2 separate regions of the Homo sapiens genome follow, and region 1 is linked to region 2. The links come from fine-mapping of genetic effects on gene expression. A gene starts in region 2. The other region holds a variant in brackets. All regions are shown on one strand. Distances are between the middles of the regions.

Evidence for each region. PIP is the estimated chance that this variant, and not a neighbour inherited with it, causes the effect.
Region 1: its variant is the best candidate, but not a certain one, in a credible set for the expression of ANGEL1 in prostate (GTEx, PIP 0.85).

Annotation. Positions count from the first base shown.
Region 1 is chr14:76,769,191-76,774,558 of GRCh38, forward strand. It overlaps VASH1 (vasohibin 1), which reads left to right. Exons shown (of 7, transcript NM_014909.5): 2 at 773-861; 3 at 2,000-2,056; 4 at 3,947-4,021. Among named protein-coding and RNA genes, the nearest start is that of VASH1, 10 kb to the left of the region's middle. The variant AC/A (reference allele first, on the strand shown) is at 2,601.
Region 2 is chr14:76,810,192-76,815,559 of GRCh38, forward strand. ANGEL1 (angel homolog 1) reads right to left here and starts at 2,691. Exons shown (of 10, transcript NM_015305.4): 1 at 2,573-2,691. The coding sequence starts at 2,636. RefSeq lists enhancers at 1,732-2,306, 2,307-2,880 and a silencer at 2,329-2,758.

The DNA.
Region 1 (5,368 bases), 41 kb before region 2:
ACTGCCTGTTCTCTCCTCTGCCATTTCTGGGCTGGGTGCTGGAAAGTGCGTTCTGGGGAGGAAGACTGTCTGGGTACCTGGAAACCTGTACTGACTAGGTGTGGAGCTGGCAGGAAAGAGAAGACTTGGAGGAGGACCCGGCCCCTCTGTGCATGCCCCAGCCACAGAGCTACAGCAAGACCTGTTCCAAAATATGTCCTTCTGGCCTGCTACCGCTGACTGACTCCTTGACAGTTCAAGTTGGTGCTCTGGAAGGCATGGCGAATATGCCCATGATACTGGGTGGGTCCCCTACCAAGGATGCTCACCCCCCTCAGGACCACTCCCAAAGCCTAGGGCACCACCTGAGAAGATGGGACCCCGGATATACCAGCTTTGATCCGGCGCTTGAACCAGAGCAAACTTCAAACCTAAAATAACCCCAATATTATATTCTTAAGTCTTGAAACTAATGAATATTTAAAATTTAAAATAGTCAGTGAATTAACCTATGTTTTTCTGAAGTTATTAAAGAAGCATAAAATTGGAACATCAGCATACACTCTGAATGAGGAATGCTGTTAAGTCCCAGGAGGGAAGGAATGGCTGGGCTGGGGCCCTGGCAAGAGTCTTCGAATGAGTGGGGTGCCAAGAAAGGAAGCTCAAGTGGGAGGGAGGGGAGGCTGTGCCTCCCCAGGGTGGGGCGCCTCTGGGGCCAGTCCTAGGTGTTTGGTGGACTGGAAGCTCCAAGGTGAGCCTCTTCTTGTGACCGGAGCTCTTTCTCTGTCCCCAGATCCCCATACCGAGTGTGCCTACGTTCCAGCCGTCTACACCTGTCCCTGAGCGCCTGGAAGCTGTGCAGCGCTACATCAGAGAGCTGCAGTATCCTCTCTGGTCAAGGGTCATGGCCACCTTCTGGCCGGTGTGGTGGGCCTTGTTTCCAGGCAGAGCTGGAGAGGTATCAGCAGAGCCGCCTCATTCCACAACGCCAGGGCCACCATTCACGTGACATCTCTGTGCTCCCTGGTGCTGTGGGACGCGGCGCGTGTGCCTCCTGGGTGTCGGAGGAATTTTGTCTGATGAGTGCAGGGCCCACTCTGCACTCTCTGCCACCCCCTTCCCGCTCCTGCCGTGTGATGGGGTAAAGAGAGGAAAATGGGTCCTGAGTGACTTGCTGGTGGGGTGGCCAAGTCTAGATAGATCTGCTCTGTTGTCCACCCAGCCCTAGCAGAGGGGGAGAGAGGGAGCTGCCTTGGGGCTTTTAAAAGTCTGATTTTGAATAAAGGGAAAAATGGCAGAGAAAAAGGATTTTCTGCTCCAGGAGGTAACTTCAGGATCCTAGAATTTTCTCCAGTTCTTCTCCTTTTTTTCCCTGGCAGTAGGATGGTTGGCCAGCAGGGGAAGAGCTGGGCTCCCCTGGGCCCAGATTCCTCTGTGTCCCTGCTCTAGCCCCTGCACCCTGCCCCTGCACCCTGCCCCAGAGCTGTGTGTCCTGGGTCCTCTCTCCCAGGCTTCTGGCTGCAGAGGTCAGAGATGGGAGAGCTAGGCATGGGTCCTGGGTCGGGAGAAGCCAGGCTGATGACTGCATATCGGGTCCAGCTCCTCCTTCTGCCAGTGGGGAAACTGGTCCAGTGAGGCAGGTGGCTGGCTCAGGAGCAATTAAAGGCTGAGTTGGACCCCCTACCCTAGCCTCCTCTCAGTTCCTGTGGCTTCTCAGCTGGTTGGAAGATGAAGTGCTGTAGGGCGCTGTTCCCAGCCACAGCCTCTTTCTGGCCCTCGCCGAACTGGTCGCCTGCTCCATGTCTCTTGTCCTAAGAAGAGAAGCCAGGGGAGAACAAGGGAGAAAGCCAAGGAGGGTGAGGGAGAGGGAAAGAGAAGGAGGCGTGAGGCGGGGAGAAGAATTCATGCTGTGCCCCCATCTCCCCTCCAGGAGACTTGGCTCTTGAGCTTCAGGATAGGCAGGAAGAGAGGGTCAACCTCCTTCAGGCCAAGCTAGGAAGCCCTTAACCCGTGCCCACAGGTACAATCACACAGGGACACAGTTCTTTGAAATTAAGAAGAGCAGACCTCTGACAGGGTAAGTATGGGGAGGCCAGTCCTCTGCCCCAGGGCTGGCTTGGAGCTTCTTGAAAGCCCTATAGTGCACCTTGGAGAGGAAGTTTATGGGGCAGTCAGGGACTCTTCTGAAGGAAGCCAGCCTTTGGGGGCAGGTGCCACCCTGGGGCCTTATGGATGTCATAAAGAGAAAAATCCGGCTGAGATGAACAGCCAGGGCTGCCTTGATGAAAAGGAAATCCCGGGTCCATGCTGAGCTAGAGGGTGGGAGAGCCGCCCCCAGCTCTTGCCTTGGCCAGGAGAGAGGGTGGTCCTAGGTGGATTGTAGGTGAGCCTCAGATCTTTTGTTTTTTAGTGAGAGGTGGACCTTGCAGGAGAGAGCCCTCCCTTCTCTGTTCTGCGGCTGCCGCACTCCCCATTGCTGATTCCCATTGCAGGGTACTTGCATGGTCACCCCATTTGCCTTACTCCGTGGACTCTTTTCTGGGCATTGAGTAGCAGGCTCAGGGTCTGAGCACAGGGAGCTCCCTGGAGAGAATGTTGCATCTCTCACTTCCCATCCCGCC[AC/A]CCCGTGTGTAGCCCCCTGCCTGGATTCACTTCCCCTGGAAAGTTTCTGCCCATGAAGCCCCGAGGGCAGAGGAGAGTGAAGAGTGAATGCCACAGCTGGGTCTAGGGGCTCTGCCCAAAGATGCCCACAGACTTAAGACCCCTGGGCTTTAAAAATTCATGTGAATTGGCCAGGCACGGTGGCTCACACCTGTAATCCCAGCACTTTGGGAGGCCGAGGTGGGCGGATCATGAGGTCAGGAGTTTGAGACCAGCCTGGCCAACATGGTGAAACCCCATCTCTACTAAAAATACAAAAATTAGCTGGGCGTGGTGGTGGGTGCCTGTAATCCCAGCTACTTGGGAGGCTGAGGCAGGAGAATCGTTTGAACCTGAGAGGCGGTGGTTACAGTGAGCCGAGATCACGCCACCGCACTCCAGCCTGGGTGACAGGGCGAGACTCTGTCTCAAAAGAAAAGAAAAAGAAAAAGAAAAAAAATTTCATATGAAGTTTACATCTTGCCCCACACATAATCTATGTTTGCTTCTTTGTGAAAATGCATTTAAATGGCTTATTAGCAAAATTACTTAATTACACCCTCTCCGAGGCCCTGGATGGAGTCCACCCTCCCTATCCCCAAAGCTTTGCTTTTGTTGGCCTGTGGCTGCTGTGTGCTGGGGAACCACTCCAGCCTTACTTGGCATGGAGGAGTCTGGGTGCCCTCCTGGGCAAAGCCAGTGACCAGGCTGAATTCCCAGGCTGGGGACAGAGGGAGGAACCACGCCTCAGGGAAAGGCTGTCTTAAAATGGCCTGAATTCCAAGTTCAGGAGCAGATCTGTAGTCAGCAGGTAACTATCTGCCTAAGATCCCACATCCAGGCTCAGGCAGCTGCGGGGAGGCAGTTGCAGTCAATTAACAAGCTCCTGGGAGAAGCCATGGTTGGGTCAGTGGTGTCTACTGTGCTTCAGAAGGGAAGAGATCGATGCTGACGTCCCTCCTCCCCCGACTGCCTCGCAGAAGGCCCCAGCCTGGTGGCTGGAGAGAAGTTGCCCCCAGCTTCTGCTGCCCTCCCCCAGAGCTCTTTGGAGCAAGAGCCAGGCGTGGGAGGTGGAAGTGAAAGAAGGGAAGAGCAGGGAGAGTGGGCCTCCTTCCTATCAGCAGTGGCCGCCTCTTTCCCACCCCCTCAGGCTCCAGACTTCCGTCCGTCGGGAGTGTGGAGGGAGGTGCTGGGCCTGAGCTGAGAGCAGCTTAGGGGGCAGCCTCTGTCCTTCTAGCATTTCTAGTCCACCCTGCCCCCTCCTTCTCACATTCCCCTGGAGGGGCTGGAGGCGCTGTCCTTACTGACCTGCCTCCCTTTCCCACAGGCTGATGGACCTGGCCAAGGAAATGACCAAAGAGGCCCTGCCAATCAAATGCCTGGAAGCCGTGATCCTGGGAATGTATCCTTCCTCACCTGAAGGGGAGGGGTCCGGGCTTCTCTGGGCCTCAGCTTCCTGCTCTGAAAGTGAGGGTGGGGTAGGTTGAATGGGCTCCAGGGCTCTCCCATATGCAGTCATCTGCTTGGCCCCAAGATGGAGAAGCACCCCACTAAAGTGGAAGAACCCCCCAAAATGGAGGAGCCCCGAGGTCCCAGTACCCCACATCTCAGTTGCTACCTTCCCAGGCTTACTGGGCAGCTCTTTTTTGAGTCACGTGGATACAGGGACCGTTTTCTGAACCCCAAATCAGGGCACAGTGTCTCACAAAGACAGTTGTACCATTTCCAAGAACTAGACAGTCTGGGAGGCACAGTTGGAATGCCCAGATGTTGGCATTTCCAGAACATGTTGATTTCTGGACGAGATATTAAAGCAAAACTGCCTTAAAAAAAAAAAAAACCACAAACAAGGTTTTCCAGTCACACCCCCGCCTCCAACCCAAAGGGCAGAAGTGGGGCCTGTAGCTGAGTCACCAGGGTAGCCTTGGAGACAGACCAGCCACCAGGAGAGGCTGTCCTCCCCAGCCCCACAGTCAACAGCGGGAGAGGAGGAAGTGTTTATGGCTGGTTCTCCATCCTAACTGGTCAATGCCTGAGCCCTACCTTTTCTTCTCAGTCATTTTATTATTAAAAATGTCATAAATACACGTGAAACCTAGAACAACATCATGAACTCCTGTGCACCCGTTACTCAGCTTCACCAACTCAAAGCCAATTCTGTTTCATCTCTTCCACCCTGCCCGTATTCTTTACCAGCTTTTAAACATTTTGCCTGCGCCCCTGGGGTAGGCAGCCCACTGGGCTCAGTGCTGCAGAGGAGCACAGATTAGGTGGGAGCCAAGAGGGTGACGGGGAGGGGGTCTGATGGAACAGGAGTCCCATCTGAGGGCAGGTCCTGGGAGGACTGTGATCCAGGGGTCCATCCCCACCCCCCACACAGACATGCCTGCCTGAAGTTCACACAAAGAGGCTGCGGGTGCCCTTCTCTTCCCGCAGAGGTCTCGGAGGGAACGCCACTATGGCAGGCATTTGCTAACAGGGCAGGCCCATTTCTGGAGCCCGACATCCCTGCCCTGTTTATGGGGTTCTTTGCTGGGATAAGCCTGAGGCCACCCGAGAAATTCAGGCTGCAGGCAGTGCCTCCTTCATGTCTTCACGTTCACTTCTCCCTCAGGGGTCACACACCAAAGTGGAGGCTCCCACCCTCATAGGAGAGAGACTGGTCCTTTTCCCCAGGAGGACACACAGAAGTCACTCCAGGCAGGGTCCTATGGTCTCAAAGCTTTTCAGGGGTCACCTGGTGGCTTGT
Region 2 (5,368 bases):
CAGCAGGATCACTTGAGGCCAGGAGTTAGAGACCAGCCTGGGCAACATAACGAAACTTCATCTCTACAAAAAATTAAAAATTAGCCAAGTACGGTGGCACATGCCCATGGTCCTAGCTACTTGGGAGGCTGAAATGAGAGGATTGCTTGAGCCCAGGTTGACGCTGCAGTGAGCTATGACTGCCCTTCTGCACTCCCGCCTGGGAGACAAAGTGAGACCTCATCTCAAAAAAAAAAAGAAAAGAAAAGAAAAAAATAAATTTTAAATTTAAAAAAATAGAGACAAGTTTGAACTAGATAATCTCTGAGCTTTTCTAGCTGTATAAATTCCCTAATCTATTAATGTATTCCAAAAGAAAAAGTCCTAAAGTAGACAGTCTCAAAAATCTATACAATTTACATCTTAGCAAGGGCCCTTAAGCCTTTTCTCAAAGCTACTTATTGTAATAAAATCTTCACAAACTTCATTATCTGCTTTCCCATTCCACAACACATCAGAGGCTATAAATTACAAGGTGCCAACAATCGACAGTAAGAGACAGCTGACATCTCTCTGATACTGCAGCCACCAATGACAGCCAACAGGCAAGAAAGAAAGTGGGAAAAACTCTAAAATTAGAGCCCCCAAACTCTGAGCACAGTATTTTGGTGAGAGCAAACAACTCCTACACTCACACACTCAACCATTTATTTACAGCACAGGACGAGTAACATGCACGATGCTGGCCCTCAATCACTAGACTCATTTTATTGGCAATTTTTTTTTAAAGGGAAGAAACCTTAAAAGTGGCTCAAATATTGAAAGACGGTTCAAATATCTTGTTTGGGGTCTATGTATATTTATGTCCTTCTAAACAATGGTTTTAACCACGGTGATTTTGCCCTCGGAAGACATTTAGCAACGTTCAGAGACACTGTTGTTGTCACAACTGCAGCATTGCTACTGGCATCTAGTGGTTAGAGGACAGAGACGCTGCTGAACTTCCAACAATTCACAGGACAGACCCACACCAAATGATCCGGTCCAAAACGTCAACAGTGCTGAGATTGAGAAACCCTGCTCTAAACCTATGTATGGGCTGGGTCGTTGAGCTTTAGCCTCAAGGACTTCCTGATTATCTGCCCCTTGAAATATCCTCTGTGTATACCAGATGGCAGAGGTTCTTTGGTTCATATGCACGAAGTTACTAGCTTTCAATTTTGGTAGATGTCTTTTGGTGGTGGTGGTGGTGGATTTTCAGCAGCAGAATGCTTTTGTTTTTTAAAAATCTTATCTGGAAACCAAATATGCCAAGTAAATATAAGTGGGACTACTGTAATGTGTAGGTGGGGGGGCGGGGGGGGCCCTCCTCTGAGATCCCTAGAACTCTACTGGTCTGGAAACCTCTGGACTAGTATACTGTATCACTAAGGCATTAGAAGAGCTCCAGGAAAAACAGCAACATAGTTAAAAGAATATGTTTAGTTCTCTGGAAACAATTACTTCTGTGGAGTTTCCCACATTCCTCAGAAGTATGGACACACAAGACATTCCTGAATTCACTGAGTGCCTACTGTATACCAAGCAATGTGTTAACACCAGAGATACAGCGAACAAAATGGACGTGGCCCTGCGCTCCTGAAGTTTGCATTCTAATGGCAGATACACAGTAAAATTTAAAATATTTCTATATGAAATATATATTATCAATGACACACACATTGCGTACCAATTGTGTAAAGTTCCACAAAGGAAAACCACAGAATATACAATTGGAGCCCTCATTCCTAAGTACTTCTTGGTCCTGTCCCATAAATTAAAGGCAAAAAGTCTGCGAGTTCCATGGGATCTCAGAAACTGATGGTCGCATAAAACCCTCCGTAATTTCAAAGCCCAGAAATAGAGAATGCAGACAAATTATGAAACAATAACGAAATAAACACCCCCTCTTTGAGGTATCGACTGGGCATTGCCCCCACCCCAGCACATCTCCCTCTAAACCGCCGGGAGTGGGGGCAGGAATGCTCCAAAGCTGAGATCTAAATGTGTCTCTGATTGAACGTCCGTTTTTCAACCAAAGACACCGGTGAGCGAGAGCTGCCAGGTGGCAGTGAAAGGCGAGTGTGAAGTTAACCTGGGGAAGATCGGTGCGTCCAGTACTTCGGCCATAAACCTCCCAGAGCCGACCCGCCTCGCCCGCTGAGAATTTGGGCACTCGCCTAGGTCCGAGCTACTACCCCTTCCCGACCCGCCGGGGTGCTGACTTGGCCGACCCCACAATTTCTCTGCACCCCCAGGGCCAGGAAAGGGCCCTGCCCGTCCACAGCTCCTCTCCACCTTAACCGCGGCCGGACGCCATCTGACAACAGGCGGGAGGAGGGGCCGCCCACGAGGGACGTCGGCCAGGTCCAGGCCTCGTGGGGTCAGGAGGGGCCCGCGGGGCAGGGGCTCAGGACCGCCTCCCTACACCTCGGCACTGCCCGGGGCACGGTAGTCGTGAGGCCCGGCCAACCGCACGCCGCCCCAGGCCCGCGGAGCCCCGCAGAGGCGAGCCCTGGCCGGGCTCCTGTCTGTCGGTACGCCTGGCCGGTACCTGAGAGGGCGCGGAAGAGGCGCGTGGCCGGCAGCAGCAGGTAACACAAGCACGACGCGATCATGGCCGGCCGCCCGCGCCCGCCTCCGCTCCTCACTGCAGCCAGCAGGTCCTCCCTCAGCTCGGCCCCGCCCCCGGCCCGGTCCGGCCCACGTGGTGCCGCCGCCGCGCTTCAACAACAACTTTATTGGGAGCGCAGGTCTACGGGTGCGCACGCAGGAAGTGGGAGGAGCCGGTTCCCATGGCAACTAGCCACCCCTAGCACCCGGCTGCCACCCAGGCGTCCCGAATTAAAATTGAGCGCCTCACTGGAGGCCCCATAGTGTTATTCAAAGGCCACAGTTTATTCCCACTTCTGCAGCTGACTAGGTGTCCACCTTGTTACCACACTATAGCCTCTCCGCCCCTCAGTTTCCTCACCTGTAAAATGAAGAGCTGGACTTTCTCTAAGGCTCCACTGAACCTTGACTTCTAGCCCTTCTCGACCCAGAAAGGAAGCGAGTTATTCCCCCATTTCCCCCGTTTTCCTGCCTCTACTTCCCTGTCTCAGATTCTAGGTCACAAATTGAGTCCTACCTTGCTTCAGGAAGTAAGACTTTGTCTCCTTCCCTACTTTCTAAACGGGCCTTCTTTTCCCTAATCTAGAAAAACAGGGTTTCCCATTGGTAAGGAAGTCAAGAAAGAAAGGAGAGAGGACAAAGAGAGGAGAGAGAGAAGGGAGAGAGGAGAGAGACAGAAGAGAGAAACTTCCACAAGGCCAGGGACCAGTTCTGGCTGGTTGTTTGCTCACTTTGAGGTATCTCTAATACAATCCAAGCACCTATTGTAACCAAGTACCCAGCTTGGAAGTTATATTCTTGTTATATACTTCTATTTCTTTATTTTTGTTCAGTTAACCACTAGGCACCCCCCGACACCCCAGCACCCCCCATACACACTGTTAGCATATCTAATTGTATGTTCGCTTAAAAGTTCCAGAGACTAAATCTTGAAACAATATAGGCATCTGTGGAAATCTCCACCAGGAGATTGATTCAAGGCTACAGTTAATTTATAACTCAGCCCAGCCCGAGATGATGCCAGCCCATTCACCAGATGGGCAGTAACTCAAGACAAGTCATCAGAACTCGTCATGAAGACCTGCACTGCCTCACCCCTTGCATACCCTCCATGCCAAAACTTCTTAAAGCCTCGCATTTTGCTTGGAAATGTGAAGCAGCTCCATTAAAGCAAAAGCCTGGATCGTTTTTCCCCACTGCTAGCTTTGGTTTATAATAAAGTCAGTCTCCTTCTACCATACCACGACCTTGCTCGTTGGTTTTGCAAGCGGCCGAATCTGCATTCGCTAGCACTACTAGCCACCACATAAGCCTTTACTGACTGGTTGAACAAAGCATATGTCACTAAATGAAGGCCAGTTCTGCCATCACTTCTGTGCCACCTGCGACCTCTTTGAGTCTCTCTTCCCCAGTCCCCCTCCCCCAATCTTCTACCCCAAACAGGCTCTGAAGGAGGGACTGGACAATGCACCCAGTTTCAGTACCCAGTGTCTGAGTTGCACGATTTCCAGTTTGTGGCTGGAGCCTTGGTTGTTCAGGGAAGCCTTCTGGGGAGTCACCAGATCCTGGACCAGCTGGGTACATCATAACACTGAAAGGCTAATAGGAGGAAGAAGGAGAGAGTTAGTATTGTGGCCTTCCCACTACTTACCCTTAGTTCTAGAGGTGGCAATGTCTGCCTGCCTTCAGGCAACAGCACTTATCCCTTTGAGATGAAACAGAGGCCCAGCAATCTGAAGGTTGGGAAGCTGCTTAGAAATTAGTGCACAAATGGTGGATCTACCAAAGGCGCTCCCGAGGTCAGGCCCCCTCCTTTGATGTAGCTTAAGTAAAACCCTCCTTGTACCCTCCTTCCATTTTGTACCATGAGTTATCCAGAAGTCCAAGTTCCAAATCAGATCCTAATCAAGGGTAACGGTTCCCTTATCTCCACTGGGAAAATGCTTTCAAAATACAAATTTCTAGGCCCTACTCCCAGAGTTCTGATTTAGCAGCCCTGGAATGAGGCCCTTAAACACTTACTTATTCCAATGCACGGTTTGGGAACCTCTGCTAAAGGATCCAGTCTCAACTGGGCTGTTCAGTGCACAGTGTGGGCACAATGTGTCAGCCCAACTGATCTATGTTCTTTCAGAGGCTTTTTCTGCGGCCAGTTAAGTGAGGCTTCCCTCTTTTTGTTTCCTGGTCCATAATCAGCCGTGTTGGAAGGTGTAGGGTGATATAAGGATCACAAGCTTTGGAGTTAGACCAACTGAGTTGAAATCCTGGCTCTGCCACTTTTTACCTGTGGAATCTCTCAGGTTGCCTAAGCTCTTGGGGCCTCAGTTTCCTCATTGTGCCTGACCCAGTATAAACTCTCAATGTTTACTATTACATTTTTGGATTTGGGCAGAAAAGCAGCTCCAGACGTGGCTGATGTAGGATCTTCTTCCACAATTTCTGGCTAAAATAGAGCTCCTGCCCTCCAAATTGTAATGAGTATTACTAAGCAAGCCAATAACTACAGGTTCCAAGGAGACTTGGCCGAAGGAGTGGAGCCTTAGGCTTCCCCAGTCAGAGGAAAATTACAAGTGCAATCTGCACAGTCTCCAGCCTCATTGTTTCAGAAATATCCCAAGAAGAGAGACGATTCCCTCAATTCATTCCAGCTGTGCTAACAATGAAGACAAGTATGAGCACCTGCATCCATCACTACCATGGTTTCCAGGGTGCAGAACCTATGTAATGGAGCAAGTGG